Regions from separate parts of the Homo sapiens genome. Here regions 1 and 2 are each linked to region 3. Evidence: fine-mapped expression QTL. A gene starts in region 3. Each other region holds a variant in brackets. All regions are shown on one strand. Distances are from middle to middle.

Region 1 (6,447 bases), 20 kb before region 3:
ACATGGTGAAACCACGTCTCTACTAAAAATACAAAAATTAGCCAGGTGTGGTGGCGGGCACCTGCAGTCCCAGCTACTCAGGAGGATGAGGCAGAAGAATCACTTGAACGAGGGAGGCGGAGGTTGCAGTGAGCCAAGATCACACCATTGCACTCCAGCCTCGGCAACAAGAGTGAGACTCTGTCTCAAAAAAAAAAACAAAAAACAAAAGTAAACCAACTGTGGGTTCTCAAAAATGCTTGGAAGTCAAAGCAGCCACTACCTCAAGAAATGGCGCTGTGGCCAGGCGTGGTGCTCACGCCTGCAGTCCTAGCACTCTGGGAGGCCACAGTGGGTGGATCCCTTGAGTCCAGGAGTTTGAGACATGGCCAACAAAATGTGAAACCCTGTCTCTACTAAAAATACAAAAATTAGGCAGGCGTGGTGGCACACGCTGGTAGTCCCAGCTACTCAGGGGACTGAGGCGGGAGGATCGCTTAAGCCTGGGAGGTCAAGGTTGCAGTGAGCTATGATTGTGCCACCGTACTCCAAAAAAAAAATGAAAATGGAACTGCAAGAAGTAGGGTGTTCCCGTTCAATGGCCTGGGCTCAGGTGAAGAGATGAATCAGGTCACACATTTAATACTCACCAGGTAAGAAGAAAAGCCATCATTCTTTGTACGGTCTAGGCTAAATCCAATCTAATGGGGAGTAAAAACAGTAGAAGTAAATATCTACACAATTGTCCATACTTTTCTTACTCAAAAAGCAGAAAAAGTGGTACTTCTAACGTGGTCTCCTCTGTTTTCTTAGCATTCATTTTGTAAGAAGGCAAAGTAAAATCACTCAAGCAAAGTCACTAATTACTAGAATTATTACAGAATTACATTTTAAGTGTTAAAAGTGAAATTATTTGATGCCTGATATATAATTTGCTACTCACATGCTTAATTATCTCCATATTCTGGTATTTTATATTTAAGCATTGGGGTTGGAAGGTGACTCTCACCTAAGCTAAAAGAGTAAACCCCTGGGCTGGGCGCAGTGGCTCACACCTGTAATCCCAGCACTTTGGGAGGCCAAGGCGGGTGGATCACGAGGTCAGGAATTCAAGACCAGCCTGGCCAAGTTGGTGAAACCCCGTCTCTACTAAAAATACAAAAATTAGACGGTCATGGTGGTGGGTGCCTGTAATCCCAGCTACTCGGGAGGCTGAGGCAGAGAACTGCTTGAACCCGGGAGGTGGAGGTTGCAGTGAGCTGAGATTGCGCCACCGCACTCCAGCCTGGGTGACAGAGCAAGACTCCATCTCAAAAAAAAAAAAAAAAGAGTAAACCCCTGGATCTCATTAAAAGGTACTTACAGTCACATCCTTGTCTTCAGGCTCATTCAGTGAGAGGCTACTGACATTCACCACCATGTACCCATCCTTGAAGAAGCCAAAGGTGTTCAGATGAACTTTATGCCTCACATCATCCTAAAGAGATTTGTAGTGGTGGAATTAGTCATATGGAAAAGTGCTTTTGATTATTTAACCTATTCATTTGCTTTAAAAAGTATGATATCAGGCTGGGCACGGTGGCTCAAGCCTGTAATCCCACCACTTTGGGAGACTGAGGCGGGTGGATCACCTGAGGTCAGGAGTTTGAGACCACACTGGCCAACATGGCGAAACCCTGTCTCTACTAAAAATACAAAAAGTTAGCCGGGCATGGTGGCGGGCACCTGTAATCCCAGCTACTTGGGAAGCTGAGCCAGCAGAATTGCTTGAACCTGGGAGGTGGAGGTTGCAGTGAGCCGAGATCATGCCACTGCACTCTAGCTTGGGTGACGGAGCAAGACTCTGTCTCAAAAAAAAAAAAAAAAAAAAAGGTAAAAGAAAAGAAGAGAAAAACTATGATATCTTATTTCTTGCTAGCCAGCCAATGTTTCCATATGCTCAGTAACATACACAGCTGTGGTAACATGTCTTTCTCCAAAAGCTGAAGACAACTCATCGGAAATCCAAAAGATATCAACAGTTTCTGCAGAAGGAAGTATTCAATGGATTCAAATTCACTCCAATGCATTGGTATGGGTTCTAGGGGCAAACTCAGTGGTTGGCTGAAATGTGAATTCCAGGGCAGGAGGAACCATGTTATCGTCATCCCCACATCCTTCCTGATAGTACAATGCCTGGCATCTAGTAGGCACTCAAAACATGCTGGGGGGTGGGGAGGAAGAAAAGGAGCGGCTGAAGCTGTTCCAAGAATACACTCATTTATATAAATCCTCTTATCAATTTGTGTGTACCTGGCTCCTCCCATTGGCAGGATAAAGAATGAAGCTAAGCTATAAGTCAATTATTTAAAAAGGTGAATTTTCACCTAAAAGTGATACAGTAGATGATGGGTTTTCAGGGAACAAAGCCTTATGCAAGAGGAATCCCAGGAATAGGAATTAGCGACATGGAGACAGAGTCTTTTGGATACAAGATAATCCTAAGGTTTGGTGAGACTGAATCACATGGGCAGACG[C/T]CTACCCCACCTGCTTGATGCTGTCTCAACATCCTGACTCCAATCTCAACTAAGTCAGTACACTGCAGGGCCAACAGAGCAATGGTGTCAGTGAACACTTCTAAAACTGGGCTTCCACAAACACACTTTATGTTGTGTAACAATTTTTATATTGAGATTTGGCTAAATTGCAACACCTTCCGTAAGTCTGCAATTTGATTCTTGGTGTGAAGGGTAACTTTTTATTTCTAGATTTGGGGTTTCCTGGACATCCCGGGTAGTCTAATGGCAAACACCAAAGGCCTGTGAGGACAGGCTGTGGAGCAGATCTTTGGCAGAAACAGCATAAACTAAATCCCCTCCTCTCCCCCACAGAACTACACCACACTGCACTATCACTAGCAGGATTTTCTTTCCTGCCCACTCTTGCATTCATAGCTTTTTGACAGCCCTAGATTATGGGCTGAGAAGCAGAGGGACACAGTTCCAACTCACCTCCCTGCTCAGGCCTAAGGCTATGGTCCCTGTTTCCCCTCAACATCTGTTAAAAACCCAGGACTCGGCCGGGCGTGGTGGCTCACGCCTGTAATCCCAGCACTTTGGGAGGCCGAGGCAGGAGGATCACTTGGGGTCAGGAGTTCGAGACCAGCCTGGCCAAAATGGGAAACCCTGTCTCTACTAAAAATACAAAAAAATTAGCCGGGCATTGTGGCACATGCCTGTAATCCCAGCTACTTGGGAGGCTGAGGCAGGAGAATCACTTGAACCCGGGAAGCAGAGGTTGCAGTGAGCCGAGATCGTGCCATGGCACTCCAGCCTGGGTGACACAGTGAGACTCTGTCTCAAAAACAACAACAACAAACAAACAAAACAAACAAAAAACCCAGGCCTCTGGGCTTCAAGTTTCTGCAACGTCACAGGGAAGCCCTGGCTTCCCTGTTCTTTCCCCAATGGAGTTTCAGCTCCTTCTTCCCTTTTTTGGGCCCCTGGGAATTTCCCTTATTTTCTTAGGAGCTTGGCTATGTGGTGAAAACATGTTTGCTGGATTTCCACTTCCTGGTGGGCTGGAGTGGCTTGCAGCAAACCAACATTCTCACAGAGAACAATTAGAAAAGCCAGATAAGATAACAGAGGTCATCTCCTGGAATCTACAAGAGTGGGTCAATGGTAAAAGCCAGAAAAGCTAAGGCTCCCAGCCTTTCTTGGAATTCTCTGAGAGAATTAAACCCACGGAAAATGTCTTCAGTATCTATTTTCTCAATTCTCTCAAGGACAGTATATGATGACTACCCTCCTAGAGGCACAGGAGACATTAACTCAACTACATAAATGGATGCCTTAGCACATTAGGGCTTCATTCTCTGGCAGAATCCTCAGTGGAGCAGGACTGCAGAGGGAGAGGATGAGGGAAAATGAACACACAATTTCTGCCACATAAAACAACGTATATGAATCACAGCCATATTCATGTAAAACAAACTGGAATGCAGGGGGAAATCATCTGTGGTGACGGAGGTGAAGACAGTGACCACTCTCAGGAGAAAGGGGCTTTCCTGGGACTTGAGGGAAGGTGAGGCTTAGGGTGCTTCTGGAGGGGCTTGGTAATGGTTCTGCCTCATTTCCTGCGGGCTGCATGAGTGTGTCTACGTTCTGGAAATGCGCTGAGTTGTTTGCTTATAATGAGTAATTTTTAGCCATGTATATTACATTTCAATAAAGTTTTAATTTTAAAAGTATGTCTTTTCTAATTGGTCCAGCATGAAGCTGCTTTGCAGCAGAATGGAAACCTGCTAGGCTTTCATTTATACTTAGGCCACCACAATACAGGTTTTCTTGTTGTTTTGTTTTTTTTTTCCAGAAAATGTTTCGATTGCAACCTGATAGCAGTTCCCCCCCCAACATAAATAGTACATTCCTTTTTTTTAAACCTTTGCATCATCATTTCATTTGATGATACAATGCCATGAAAAACAGGTTTTTGAAGACTATTTTAAACAATAAAAACAGCATCGGCTGGGCACGATGGCTCATGGCAGTAATCCCAGCACTTTGGGAGGCCAAAGCAGGCAGATCACCTGAGGTCAAGAGTTCGAGATCAAGGCCGGGCGCGGTGGCTCACACCTGTAATCCCGGCACTTTGGGAGGCCGAGGCAGGCAGATCACAAGGTCAGGAGATTGAGACCATCCTGGCTAACACGGTGAAACCTCATCTGTACTAAAAACACAAAAAATTAGCTGGGCGAGGTGGCACGCGCCTGTAGTCCCAGCTACTCGGGAGGCTGAGGCAGGAGAATGGCGTGAACCCCAGGGGGCGGAGCCTGCAGTGAGCCGAGATCACGCCACTGCACTCCAGCCTGGGCGACAGCGAGACTCCATCTCAAAAAAAAAAAAAAATTAAATAAATAAAAAAATAAATAAATAGAAAGAGTTCAAGATCAGCCTGGCCAACATGGTGAAACCCCATATCTACTAAATACAAAAATTAGCCAGGTGTGGTGGTGTGTGCCTGTAATCCCAGCTACTTGGTAGGCTGAGGCAGAAGTGCTTGAACCGAGGAGGCAGAGGCTGCAGGGAGCCGGGTTGTACCACTGCACTCCAGTCTGGGAAACAGAGCAAGACTGTCTCAAAAATAATAATAATAAGGCTGGATTACGCCTGTAATCCCAGCACTTTGGGAGGCCGCGGCGGACGGATCACCTGAGGTCAGGAGTTTGAGACCAGCCTGGCCAACATGGTGAAACCCCGTCTCTACTAAAAGTACAAAAATAAGCCAGGCTTGCTGGCAGGCATCTGTTAATCCCAGCTACTTGGGAGGCTGAGGCAGGAGAATCGCCTGAACCTGGGAGGCAGAGGTTGCAGTAAGCGGAGATTGCACCATTGCACTCCAGCCTGGGGGACAAGAGCAAGACTTTATCGCAAAAAACAAAACAAAACAAAAATAGTAATAATAATAATAATGATAATAACAACAGCATCACAACTCCCAGTTTTCAGAGTCTTCCAAGAACTAGGTTATGTGCCAAGGGCTTTACCTATGATTTCTGACCCTCGCTCAGCTCAGTGTGGTTAAGAGAAGCAGCCCCACGGTAGCGATGAAGACACCAGTTCAGAGGAGAAATGACTACCTGAGGCCAAGCAGACTATAGCTAATAAAGCTGGGGCTTCAAACTAGATCTGATATGAGAGCCATTTTCACATTATCATTTCCTAACAAGGGAAAGTAATCATGATACAACATTAAATGTAAAAAGCTATATTCAGTAACATTTGATAGAAAAAAAAAGGGTGAGGGGCCAGGCGAGGTGGCTCTCGCCTATAATCCCAACATTTTGGGAGACTGAGGCAGGCAGACTGCTTGAGCCCAGGAGTTTGAAACCACCCTAGGCAACAGAGAAACCCCATCTCTAGCAAAAAAAAAAAAAAAAATTAGCCAGTTGTGGTGGCATCCTAGCTATTCAGGAGGCTGAAGTGGGACGATTGCTTTAGCCCAGGATGTCGAGGCTGCAGTGGGCTGGGACTGCATCACTGCACTCCAGCCTGCGCCACAGAGTGTGACTCTGTCTCAAAAAAAAAAAAAAAAAAGAAAAAAAAAAAGTTAGGACTGGGCCTGGTGACTCTCATCTATAATCCCAACACTTTGGGAGGCTGAGGTGGGAGGGTCACTTGAGGACAGGAGTTCAAGACCAGCCTGGGCAACACAGAAAGACCCCCACCTCTACAAAACATTTTAAAATTTGGCCAGGCGTGGTGGCATGCAACTGTAGCCACAGCTACTGGGGATGCTGAGATGGAGGATCCCCTGAGCCCAGATGTTTGAGGCTACTGTGAGCTATGATTACACCACTGCACTCCAGCCTGGGAGACAAAGCAAGGCTATCTCCAAAAAAAAGAAAAAAAGAAAAAAAAATTGTTACCCACAATCCCACTGGCACTGACTTTTTTATACTTTCGTGAATTTCTTTCAAGTCTTTCA
Region 2 (6,447 bases), 31 kb before region 3:
AGGTATGGTGGTCTATGCCTGTAGTCTCAACTACTTGGGAGGCTGAGGCAGGAGGATCACTTGAGCCTAGGAGGTTGAGGCTGCAGTGAGCCGTGATTATACCATTGCACTCCAGCCTGGGCAACAGAGTGAGACCTTGTCTCAAAAACAAAACAAAAAGAAATGAAGTGAGGTGTCCAATACACCCAGCTAGTAAGTGGGTTCTGAGGCCCAGTCCAGTATCTTGTTCCCATACGTATGCTATTATGCTGCCCCTAAACACTCATGGGCAATTAATAACTCTGACAGCTAAGCAGGTCACTCAAAGCCTCTGAGTCTAGGTGAAATCATCTCTAAAATTACAACATCACCGTAAATCATCATCAATGGTCCTTTCAGAATGGGGTACTATGCTTCTGGCACACTTTGAATGGGAGGTAGCATGGGATTGGGGCAAAGGGGTCATGGGAACAGCCAGGCAGGACTGGGTTGGAAACTGTACCGTGTCACCTACACTAGATAGTCACAAAGTTATTCACTCTCAGAGACTTCTGATTTGATAAGTAGATGGGTAACAATATCCACCTTGTGGGCTTGTTATAAGGAGAGCTACTGCATTTAAGTGACTGATACAGGGCATACCTAAGTTGTTATTCCTAAATTCAAAATTCCTCTAAAAAAAAATTACCCTTTTACATGGTAGAGAGAAATTCTAGGAGGCTTTACACAAAGAGCATACATACCTGAAATGACACTGCCCCACCATTATTATGAACAGAAAAGGATTTCTCTCCCATGGCCTAAAAAGACATAATAGTATGTTTTAGGATGACACCGGCATAGAAGCATGCTAATTAAAAGTAATTTATTAAACAAAACAAAACATGTTTCTTAAACTCTAAATTTGCTGACCTTCAAAAAAGCTCTCTGAAAATAAAACCAACTATCCTTTCGAGATGGCTGAAATCTGCTTTCACAGAGAATGGTAGTTGTTCTTCACCTGTCTCTTCTGCCTCTGCACTAACCCCTACCTCCACCCCCTGCCTTGAATCTTTCGGCTAGACAGCTTGTCTACCCTTGAAGCTTCAGTCAGACTAAGGGTGCTGACCCAGGCCATGCCCTGTTACATCCCCTGAATTCCACTCCTGACATCAAATGACCAAAATATTGGCCAGGCACAGTGGCTCACGCCTGTAATCCCAACATATTGGGAGGCCAAGGTGGGCAGATCACTTGAGGTCAGGAGTTCAAGACCAGCCTGGCCAACAAGGTGAAACCCCATCTCTACTAAAAATACAAAAATCAGCCAGGCGTGGTGGTGCGTGTCTATAATCCCAGCTACTCCGGAGGCTGAGGCAGGAGAACTGCTTGAACCTGGGAGGTGGAGGTTGAGATCGTGCCACTGCACTCCAGCCTGGGTGGTAGAGCAAGACTGCGTTCCCCCCGGCAAAAAAAAAAAAAAAAATCAAAATATTGCCATTTATACAGTAAAACTGAGCAATGAAAAGAAATGATACATGCAACAATGTGGATGAACTCAAAGTAATTATGCTGAATATAAGACAGAAAAGAGTGCTGCATAATTCAGTTATATGAAGTTCTATAAAACTAATCTATACCCCAGTGACAGATCAGTGATTGCTTGGGGACAGGGGGCTTACAAAAAGGCAGAAGAAATTTTTGGGGTGATGGATATTTCACTACCTTGATTGATAAGTCAAAGTTATCAGATTGCTGCTTTACATATCTACAGTTTATTTTAGGTCAATTATACTTCAACAAAGCTGTTAAGACAAAACATCACCATTTAGATGTCCCCCTCATGGAGAAATCAAGATATCGCCAACCAAAACTTTCCCAGTTTTTCCACTTCTGCTATTTCTACGACCCACTCCTCTGCTCCTCTCTTTCCCTCCCATGACCCTAACTGGCTTCCCAGTCGTTTACCATCCAAGGCTCTGCTCTAGTCCAGATCCTCATCACCCGAAACCTGTATTCTCACAACTGTGTCCTTCCTGGTCCTTCTAACAACCCTTTCTCCTTCTCCAAGGCTACCCTTCACGTCACTTTCAGAATTATGATCTTTAATAAACAGTCTTTCCCAATCAGGAACTCAGGATGACTTCCCGTAGCCTGCTCATCAATTCCTCTATTGCTTGGCCCTATATTATCTAAGACCTCTCTCTGCTCCCAAATATGTGTCTTTTACTTCAAACGAGCCAGTGCTCAGCATTTGTCATCATCCAGTCTTTGCGTATGGCATTCTTCCTCCCCTCCCTTGTCTTTCTCTTCCCTGAACAAACTCCAGACTCAGCCCCGGCGACAGCTCCTTCCAGAGGGCTTTTCTGATGGTTTGGCATCTTCCTTCCCTAACTACCTGATCCTACATCATGTAAGTGCTGTGCAACTTAGAAATCAATTTTCTTTTCCTTTTTTTTTTTTTTGAGACAGGGTCTCACTCTGTCACCCAGGCTAGAGTGAAGTGGCACAATCATAGCTCACTGTAGCCTTAGCCTCCCAGGCTCAGGTGATCCTTCCACCTCAGCCTCCAGAACAGCTGCGACCACAGGCGCATACCACCATGCCCGCTAATTTTCTATTTTTTGTAGAGATAAGGTTTCGCCATGTAGCCCAGGCTGGTCTTGAACTCCTGGGCTCAATTAATCCACCCACCTCAGCCTCCCACAGTGCTGGGATTACAGGCGCAAGCCACCATGCCCAGCCAGGAATCAATTGTCCTTTGAAATTGTTTCAGTATGTCAATGCTCTCCCCCAAAATAGGAGACAATTCCCTGTAGATTTTTTTTTTTTT[TTA/A]ACTTTTTTTGAGATAGTCTCACTCTGTCACCCAGGCTGGAGTGCAGTAGCGCGATCTTGGCTCACTGAAGCCTCTGCCTCCCAGGTTCAAGTGATTCTCCTGCCTCAGCCTCCCAAGTAGCTGGGATTACAAGCATGCACCACCAAGCCCAGCTAATTTTTGTATTTTTAGTAGAGACAGAGTTTCACTATGTTGGCCAGGCTGGTCTCGAACTCCTGATCTCAAGTGATCCCCCAACCTCAACCTCCCAAAGTGCTGGGATTACGGCATGAACCACCACATCTGGCCCCCTGTAGATGAGATATGCGTGTGTGTGTATGTATGTATGTGTGTACATATATATATATATATATATATGTTAGCTCTCTGTATTGCAGGTTCCACATCTGCAGATTGAACCAACTGCCAACCAAAAATATTTTTTAAAATAAGATGAAAAAGTAATAGTAATAAATAACATAAATAAAAATCCAACACAGTGTAACAACTATTTACAAAGCATTTACGTTGTATTAGGTATCATGAGTACTCCAGAGATGATTTAAAGTACACAGGAGGATGTGTGTAGGTTATGTGTAAATACTATGCCATTTTATATAAGAGACATGAGCATCTACTGATTTTGATATTCACTAGGGTTCCTGTAACCAATCCCCTGTGGTCACCAAGGGACGACTGTATATGTATGTGTCTGTGCATGCATGTATGTATATATATCAATACACACACACACATGCATATAACACACACACGTACACACATATCCAGAAAAGCTGAGCACAAAAGGGTGGTTAGTTCTTACCTTTGAATCCACTGTACTTCTTTTAGACTTTCCACCATCTAGAAGCAAGAACATTTAAAAGAGAGTGCTGCATGACTCAACTTACAGATACATATATATATTACAGTATCATTTTATGAGGCTTCAGCTTGTCTAATATCAAATAATTAAACAAAATAATCTTGGGGACTGCCATTTCCTCAGGTCCCAAAACATAATTCTTGTACTGTCGAAGCAGCAAATTAGACCTTGTTATATTATAAATGGTATCTAGTAACCGGTAATAGTAACAACAGAATTCATTTCTGGATATTCTAGCTTATGTTATTGCCAGAGAGGCCACATGGAATGACTTCCTAATTTTCTAAGTAATCACATTTGAAAACACAATTTTTAAGAAGAAGGCCAGGTGCGGTGGCTCATGCCTGCAATCCCAACACTTTGGGAGGCTGAGGCAGGTGGATCACCTGAGGTCAGGAGTTTGAGACCAGCCTGGCCAACCTGGCGAACCCCCATCTCTACTAAAAATACAAAAATTAGTCGGGCATGGTGGTGCATGCCTGTAATCCCAGCTACTCGGGAGGCTGACACAGGAGAATCCCTTGAACCCAAAAGGTGTAGGCTGCAGTGAGCTGAGATCATACCACTGCACTCCAGCCTGGGTGACAGAGCGAGACTCCATCTCAAAAAGAAAAACATGAGATACATTTACACACTTGAAAAAGTTAACAGCAAGTAATATTAGCATAATGATACTTTCCTCCCTACAGCAAGAAGATTGCTAATGGCTTCTTTCATGGAACAGAGTGGGCATCTATCTTTTGTTTTCACTTAAGATATTCTTGGGCTGGGTGCGGTGGCTCATGCCTATAATCCCAGCACTTTGGGAGGCTGAGATGGGCGGATCATGAGGTCAGGAGATTGAGACCATCCTGGCTAACATGGTGAAACCCCGTCTCTACTAAAAAATACAAAAAAATTAGCCACGTGGTGGCAGGTGCCTATAGTCCCAGTTACTCGGGAGGCTGAGGCAGGAGAATGGCGTGAACCTGGGAGGTGGAGCTTGCAGTGAGCCGAGATCGCGCCACTGCACTCCAGCCTGGGAGACAGAGCAAGACTCCGTCTAAAAAAAAAAAAAAAAAAAAAAAAGATATTCTTTTTGGGAAAGACTGGACTTCAGGCTCCCTGCAGGAAGGAAGAGAATAAAGAGAAAGAAAAGAATATTTTCTTCCCAGAGAACGGTGATATGAGCACAAAGAAGCCAGACAAGAAGCAGATGGTGCACAGGCATTAACCTACACCATTGCACAAATGCAGTCTTTCTGTGTGGCTTTTAACTGCAGTCAAGTTGGACAGACTGAACGACATAGTTTAGATGTCTGTCCCCTCCAAATCTCATGTGGAAAGGCAGTCCCCAGTGTTGGATGTGAGGGCTAGTGTGAGGTATCTGAGTCATGAGGACATATCCCTCATGAATGGCTGGTGCCCTCCTTGTGGTAAGGAGTGAGTTCTTGCTCCGAGTTCAGGCATGATCTGGTTGTTTAAAAGAGTGTGGCACCTCCCCACTCTCTCTTGCTCCTGCTCTCGCCATGTGACCTGCCTGCTCCTTCTTGCCTTCTGCCATGATTGGAAGCTTCCTGAGGCCCTCACCAGGAGTAGATTCCGGCGCCATGCTTTGTATAGCCTGCAGAACTGTGAGGCAATTAGACAATTAAACCTCTTCTTTTTTTGTTGTTGTTGTTGTTTTTCGGTGGTGGTGGTTGGTTTTGAGACAGGCTCTCACTCTGTCACCCAGGCTGGAGTGCAGTGGCGCAATCTCGGCTCACTGCAGCCTCTGTCTCCTGGGTTCAAGAAATTCTTTTGCCTCAGCCTCCCCAACAGTTGGGACTACAGGCGCATGCCACCACATCCGGCTAATTTTTGTGTTTTTTGTTTTTTGTTTTTTTTTTTTTGAGACAGAGTCTCACTCTGTCGCCAGGCTGGAGTGCAGTGGTGCGATCTTGGCTCACTGCGAACTCCATCTCCCTGGTCCAAGCAATTCTCCTGCCTCAGTCTCCTGAGTAGCTGAGATCACAGGCACGTGCCACCATGCCCGGCTAATTTTTTGTATTTTTAGTAGAGACGGGGTTTCACCATGTTGGCCAGGATGGTCTCAATCTCTTGACCTTGTGATCTGCCCACCTCGGCTTCCCAAAGTGCTGGGATTACAGGCGTGAGCCACCACACCCGGCCTAATTTTTGTATTTTTAGTAGAGATGGGGTTTCACCATGTTGGCCAGGCTGGTCTTGAACTCCTGACCTCAAGTAATCTGCCCGCCTTGGCCTCTCAAAGTGCTGGGATTACAGGGATGAACCACCATGCCCAGCCTCCTTTGAGAAAAACATTGTATAAGCAGTAAGTATGTATGTATTTATTTCGGAGACAGGGTCTTGTTCTGTCATCCAGGCTGCAGTGCATCACGGCTCAATGTGGCCTAGACCAGTCACATTCAAGCAATCCTCCTGCCTCAGTCTCTTGAGGAGTTGTGACTACAGGCACATGCCACTACGCATGGCTAATTTTTTTATTTTTATTTTTGCAGAGACAGGGCCTCGCTATGTTGCTCAGGCTGGTACAAGCTCCTAGACTCAAGTGATCCTCCCACTTTGGCCTCCCAAAGTGCTGGGATTATAGGCGTGAGCCACTGCACCTGGCCATAAATTATCTTTAAAGAACTCACATGAATCATCAGATGAACCTGACAGTTAATAAAAAATGGTGAATATAAATTGGTTAATCAACACATGGAGAAAAAGTACAGTCTCAGTAATAAGAGTAAATATAAATAAACAGGGCCGGGCGCAGTGGCTCACGCCTGTAATCCCAGCACTT
Region 3 (6,447 bases):
TTGTGAACTTTCTTAAAACATTATGAGATTTTTTTGCAATTTTTTAAAGCTTATCAGCTATGGTTACTGTTAGTCTATTTTAGGTGTGACCCAAAACAACTTTTCATCTTCCAATGTGGCCCTGGGAAGCCAAAAGATTGGACACCCCTGACTTCGGATGTTTATTTTATTTTATTTATTTATTTATTTTGAGACGGAGTCTTGCTCTGTCGCCCAGGCTGGAGTACAGGGGCTCAATCTTGGCTCACTGCAACTTCCTACTCCTGGGTCCAAGCGATTCTCCTGCCTCAGCCCCGAGTAGCTGGGATTACAGGTACCTGCCACCACGCCTGGCTAATTTTTGTATTTTTAGTAGAGATGTGATTTCACAATGTTGGCCAGGCTGGTCTCAAACTCCTGACCTCAAGTGATCCACCCACCTCAGCCTCTGAAAGTGCTGGGATTACAGGCGTGAGCCACCGTGCCCGGCCAAGTTTTGTCTACATTTCTACATGCACTTTTCTGGAGAGAGGTTCTATAGCTCTCAACAGATTCTCAAAGAGTCAAAATTCACTTGCCCCACCCCCACCCCTGTGATTGAACCATTTTAATCAGGATAATTTTTACCTACAAACAACAAAAGTTGTTACCAAAAAGTAAGGTTGTATGGATCCAGTCAGGCTTGCATTTATTTATTTATTTATTTATTTATTTGAGACAGAGTATAGTTCTTTCGCCCCGACTGGAGTGCAGTGGCACAATGATCTCTGCTCACTGCAATCTCAGCCTCCCGGGTTCAAGCAATTATCCTGTCTCAGCCTCCCAAGTAGCTGGGACTACAGGCATGTGCCACCATGCCCGTCTAATATTTGTATTTTTAGTAGAGAGGGGTTTTGCCATGTTGGCCAGGCTGGTCTCGAACTCCTGACCTCAGGTGATCCGCCCACCTCGGCCTCCCAAAGTGCTAGGATTATAGGTGTGAGCCACCGTGCCCAGTCAAGCCAGGCTTTTAATTTCATTCTGTATTCTTTAAATTCTACATTAACAAAATACAATGCTTCATAGTTTGCTAAAACAATGTGTTTTTACAAGACAAACTTTCTACAGTTCCACTTCTTTTTTTTTTTTTTTTTGAGACGGAGTCTCGCGCTGTTGCCCAGGCTGGAGTGCAGTGGCGGGATCTTGGCTCACTGCAAGCTCCGCCTCCCGGGTTCACGCCATTCTCCTGCCTCAGTCTCCCGAGTAGCTGGGACTACAAGCGCCTCCCAGGTTCACGCCATTCTCCTGCCTTAGCCTCCCGAGTAGCTGGGACTGCAGGCGCCTGCCACCACGCCTGGCTAATTTTTTTTTTATTTTTAGTAGAGATAGGGTTTCACCGTGCTAGCCAGGATGGTCTCGATCTCCTCACCTCGTGATCTGCCTGCCTCGGCCTCCCAAAGTGCTAGGATTACAGGCGTGAGCCACCGCGCCCCGCCTACAGTTCCACTTCTTAGAAGACTGTATGGTATGAAAATAATGTACAAGAGTTTGGGTCATAACAATTTACTTTTCTATGTCTCTAATTTTGTTTATATGTTTTGAGAAAGGGTCTTGCTCTGTTCCTCAGGCTGGAATGCAATGAGTAATCACGGCTCACTGCAGTCTCAACCTCCTAGGCTCAAGTGATCCTCCAGCCTCAGCCTCCCCAGAAGCTGCAGGCGTTTGCCACCACACCTGGTTAATTTTTAATTTTTTGTAGAGACAGGTTTGGGGAGGGGGTCCTTAGCACGTTGACTAGGCTGGTCTCGAACTCCTGGGCTCAAACAATCCTCCTGCATAGGCCTCCCAGTGTTGGGATTACAGGCATGAGCCACAGCACCTGGACAATTTCCCAGATATAGTAAACTGCTGAACCACCTTAGGGTGCGTTTCAGCCTTAGAGGTCTTTTCTCTGCTAGTTACAAAGCAAGATCCAGAGTATCATTCTAGGTTTATCAAAAATCTCTCTTCCCTAGACAATGGCTGGATAGAGGAAGAAAAAGCAGGCCCTTTGATTAGAGACACACCTTAATGCTGGCTTTACATTCTCAGTCACGTGTTTTAAGCAAGATTTGAAATTCCTTCTCTAGAGTCTCGCTCCAGAGAGCGCCCTAAACCGAAATGGGAAACTGAGGCTAAGGTTCCAAGTACCTTCAAACCGCCGGTACAGTACAAGGGCACAGAAGAGCGGAGACCGCGGACAAGGAAAGCCAGCATAAAAGCTGGAGGGGAGAAAGAAGAAAGGCGATCGGGCTGCCCTGAGTGAGGAATTCAGGGAAGCCAGCAGGGATTTAAGAGCAGCCTCCCGAGTCCGTGGGGGCAACGCCACAGTTCAGCCCCTTCCCCTCCCTCAGCTCGAGTCTTCCCGCCCCGTGCCGGTCAGCCCGAAGACCCCAGCGCCGCCCAGACCCGCCTTCCCCACAGACCCCGCCACCTGTCAGTGAAAGGCCGCAGCCAGGGGCAAAGAGGTGGTCCAGTGGCTCAGAGGTCCCCAATGGGCCAAAGTTGCCCTAAAACCCGGGGAGTGGCCTCGGCCTCCGCCCCCCGGCCCGGCCTTGCCAAGCTTTACCTTGAGTGCCAGGTGATGGACGCGGCCCAGGCCAGGCTCGGCCAGCAACTGCAGCAAACCCAGCATTGGGAGCAGCCGGAGGCCCGCGGCCAGCCTAGGACCGCGGGAGGCGGGGGAGCCGACGGGCGCCAGAGCGGCCATGTTTGTTCCAGCATCACCAGCCGCTTCCTCTCCCGCCCACGTCCGGGGTGAAAGGGCGCAGCCGCCGGAAGGGCCCGGGGAGCGGGGCTCGGCGGCTAGCTCCGCTGACCCTGTGGTCGTTTTCCTGGAGATTGCGACCTAGGAAGTCGTCGAGGAGCCTGTGCTGCCCACCTCGGGGCCCTTCGATCGGCCGCTCCTGTGCAGACTTTCAGTTAGAGATGAAGCCAACCTATTGGCGGTTGCCATAACAACGGTGGCCGAACCAGACCAGCCCGGGCCGCACCTCCGCCTCGCTGAGCTTTGGAAGCGACCTTGGGCTCCGGGGACCCCTGATCTCAGGGTCGGGGGATAAGCTGTGTCAGCCGCACGGTGTCGGGCCACTGATTGAACTGATTTCACTGAGCGTTGACTCGGAGGAAAATATCTAAAAATTCCCGGCTCGCCGTAGGGGTCCTGTGGTTTTCTAGGCGCTTCACACTCAAATACAAGCGAAATGGTTGCAATAATACGATTGATTGAGCCCTTATGAGGCAATTTGTTAGGCCTTTTGTTGTATTTAATTTTTGGAACAATTTGATGAGCTAGGAGGTACGTATTATCATTATTCCTACTTTACAGGTAAGCAAACTGAGGCTCTGAGAAATAAGTCATTTGCTCCAGGTTGAGCTGGGAATCACACGGAAGCTCTTAACTCCTGTGTTCTGTTGCCTCATGCTATTTCATCCAACCCCAAGTCTGGGTCTTAACATTTTTCTCTTAATTCTGTATGGAAACTTTCTTTGCTTCTTTCAGAAATTATAGGAACTTCTTTTTTTTGAGACGGAGTCTAGCTCTTGTCACCCAGGCTGGAGTGCAATGGCACGATCTCAGCTCACTGCAACCTCCGCCTTCTGGGTTCAAGCGATTCTCCTGCCTCAGCCTCTGGAGTAACTAGAATTACAGGCCTGCGCCACCACGCCCGGCTAATTTTTGTATTTTTAGTAGACACGGGGTTTCTCCCATGTTGGCCAGGCTGGTCTCGAACTCCTGACCTCAAGTTATCCTCCCGCCTCGGCCTCCCAAAGTGCTGGGATTACAGGCGTGAGTCACTGCGCCCAACCTGCTTTGGAGTACTTTTTATCTTTTAAAGTTAAGTGGCATCTTTGAAAATCTCTGGTTTTAAATTTGAATATAATACTGTACTAAAAACGAAATGAGGCCTGGCAGGGTGGTGATTCGCGCCTGAATCCCAGCACTTTGGAACGCCGAGGCGGGCGGATCACTTGAAAGTCAGTTGTTCGGGACCAGCCTGGGCAACATGGCAAAACCTCGTCTCTACTAAAAATACAAAAATTAGCGGGGCATCACGGCCGCGCGCCTGTAGTCCCAGCTACTGGGGAGGCTGAGGCAGGAGAAGCACTTGAACCTGGGAGGCAGAGGTTTCAGTAAGCCAAGATCATGCCACTGCACTCCAGCCTGGGTGACAGAGTGAGACTCTGTCTCAATAAAAAAAAAATCAGGTAAGAATCTTAATCCCATTTTATAATACAATAGTGATGAAACATTAAAATAGTTTTAAATAGGAGACTTTTGTCTTAGTTTCTGGACAACAGTTTTATAAGGGCTTAAAACTGGGTTCATAGCATTCCTTGCTTCTCTATACTTGGGTATTATCATGTGACCTACATAGGGTCATACCAGTGCTGTCTGTCCAGGGGTTTAAGAGGATATCTTCTTCTTTCACATATTTGAAAGCTGTATTGTGCCAGTCATTATTTTGGAATTGAGAGGAATAAGAATGAGGGAAAACTGACTACAAAGACATTGTTGAGCATTTTCTCTACAGTTACTTCTTAAATTCTAGAAAACTGCTGCCTTGACAATTACATTTAGCCATGTGATTTCATAGTTTCAAGAAAAGATTATTTGCATAATCATGATGCTGTAACTGGAAACAAACAGGCTGAGTAACAGAACAAGTTATGCCTGCTTCTCCTGGCAACATTTTCAAAGGGACATTACACTTTAAGGTATTGACTGAAAAAGCCTGCAGGGGCTGGAAAGACTGATCTCCTAAGCTTGGCTTTTAGCCTTACTCTCTTAGTCAAGTACATTTTATTTTTCTATTTTCTCTCCTTTTTTTTTTGAGACAGAGACACTGTTGCCCAGGACTGAGTGCAGTGGTGTGACATCTGTTCACTGTAGTCTCCACCTCCCAGGTTCAAGGGATTCTCATGCCTCAGCCTCCCTAGCTGGGACCACAGGTGTGCGCCAGTATGCTCAGCTAATTTTTGTATTTTTGCTAGAGATGGGGTTTCACCATGTTGGCCAGGCTGGTCTTGAACTCCTGGCCTCAAGTGATCTGCTCACCTCGGCTTACCAAATTGCTGGATTACAGGCGTAAGCCACCCTGCCTGGACTATTTTCTCTAACTTTTCAGGATCAGCTTAAGGTTGCTACTAGAATGTGTAGTGTTGAATCTAGTGCTATTATTATTAAATAATTATTTGATATCGGTTTGGACATTTTCAGAACTCTTTTAAGTAATTAATGTGTTAATAGTCTCCAGTTTAAGAAAGTATAATTGCCATTTGTTTTTCTTATCAAAAGACTTGATAGGCCTGGCTGGTGTCTCATGCCTGTAATCCCAGCACTTTGGGAGGCCAAGGCTGGTGGATAACTTGAGCCCAGGAGTTTGCCACCAGCCTGGGCAACATGGTGAAACACCTTCTCTACAAAAAATACAAAAATTAGGCCAGGGGCGGTGGCTCAGGCCTGTAATCTCAGCACTTTGGGAGGCTGAGGTCAGTGGATCACCTGAGGCCAGGAGTCTGAGACCAGCCTAGCTAACATGGCAAAACCCCATCTCTACTAAAAATACAAAAATTAGCCAGGCATGGTGGCGCATGCCTGTAATCCCAGCTACTCAGGAGGCTGAGACAGGAGAATCGCTTGAACTTGGGAAGCGGAGGTTACAGTGAGCCCAGATTGTACCATTGCACTCCAGCCTGTGTGACAGAGCGAGATTCTGTCTCAAAAAAAAAAAAAATTAGCGAGCATGATTGCACCAATTCACTCCAGCCTGTGCGACAGAGCAAGACTCTGTCTCAAAAACAAAAACAAAAAAACAAAAAAAAAACACAAAAATTAGCGGGCATGGTGACACGCACCTGTAGTCCCAGCTACTCAGGAGGCAGAGAGGTGGTAGGATTGCTTGAGCCCAGGAGTCAACACTGGAGTAAGCCATGACACTTTTATCCAGCTTGGGTGACAGAGCAAGACCCTGTCAAATAAAAAAAAAAAAAGAGTTGATTGATATTGCAAACCAAAAGCCTCTGTTAAGACAGTATAGGAAACTAGTGGTCAAATTGGGGCCTAGCAATACATTCAGAAGTCAAATGCTACTTTTCATTCTTTGGCTTGAAACACCATTTCTTCCAGGATTGCAGCTAAAGTTTTCATGCATTTCTTGGGGTGTCGGGAATGCCTCCAAGTGCATCTTTTTGTAGAAAGTGATCATGGAAAAGCCAGGCTCTGACACACTTTGAGTCCTGTGGATTGGAGAGAAACTTCAAAATTACTCCTCAACCTGACGACCCTAGTGTATAACTTGCTCAGCCACAGGACAGGCAGTCTTTCTTGATTTTATGTACATCTTTACAGGGGAATTGGATTATTCGTTGTAAAAATTCATTGCAGTTTTAGCATTTCACTCACCATGGAGTTCCTGGTTTTATCCTACTCCACTTTTTCCAGTTGAT

What was found. PIP is the estimated chance that this variant, and not a neighbour inherited with it, causes the effect.
Region 1: its variant is the best candidate, but not a certain one, in a credible set for the expression of GPR107 in skeletal muscle (GTEx, PIP 0.74).
Region 2: its variant is the best candidate, but not a certain one, in a credible set for the expression of GPR107 in whole blood (INTERVAL, PIP 0.61).

What each region holds. Positions count from the first base shown.
Region 1 is chr9:130,070,645-130,077,091 of GRCh38, reverse strand. It overlaps GPR107 (G protein-coupled receptor 107), which reads right to left. Exons shown (of 18, transcript NM_020960.5): 2 at 1,343-1,456; 3 at 630-680. Among named protein-coding and RNA genes, the nearest start is that of GPR107, 20 kb to the right of the region's middle. The variant C/T (reference allele first, on the strand shown) is at 2,496.
Region 2 is chr9:130,080,752-130,087,198 of GRCh38, reverse strand. GPR107 (G protein-coupled receptor 107) reads right to left here. Exons shown (of 18, transcript NM_020960.5): 6 at 3,597-3,634; 7 at 723-779. Among named protein-coding and RNA genes, the nearest start is that of GPR107, 30 kb to the right of the region's middle. The variant TTA/A (reference allele first, on the strand shown) is at 2,792.
Region 3 is chr9:130,050,193-130,056,639 of GRCh38, reverse strand. It overlaps GPR107 (G protein-coupled receptor 107), which reads right to left and starts at 2,734. Exons shown (of 18, transcript NM_020960.5): 1 at 2,567-2,734. The coding sequence starts at 2,707. It also overlaps a transcript of FNBP1 not described here. RefSeq lists a silencer at 2,437-2,746.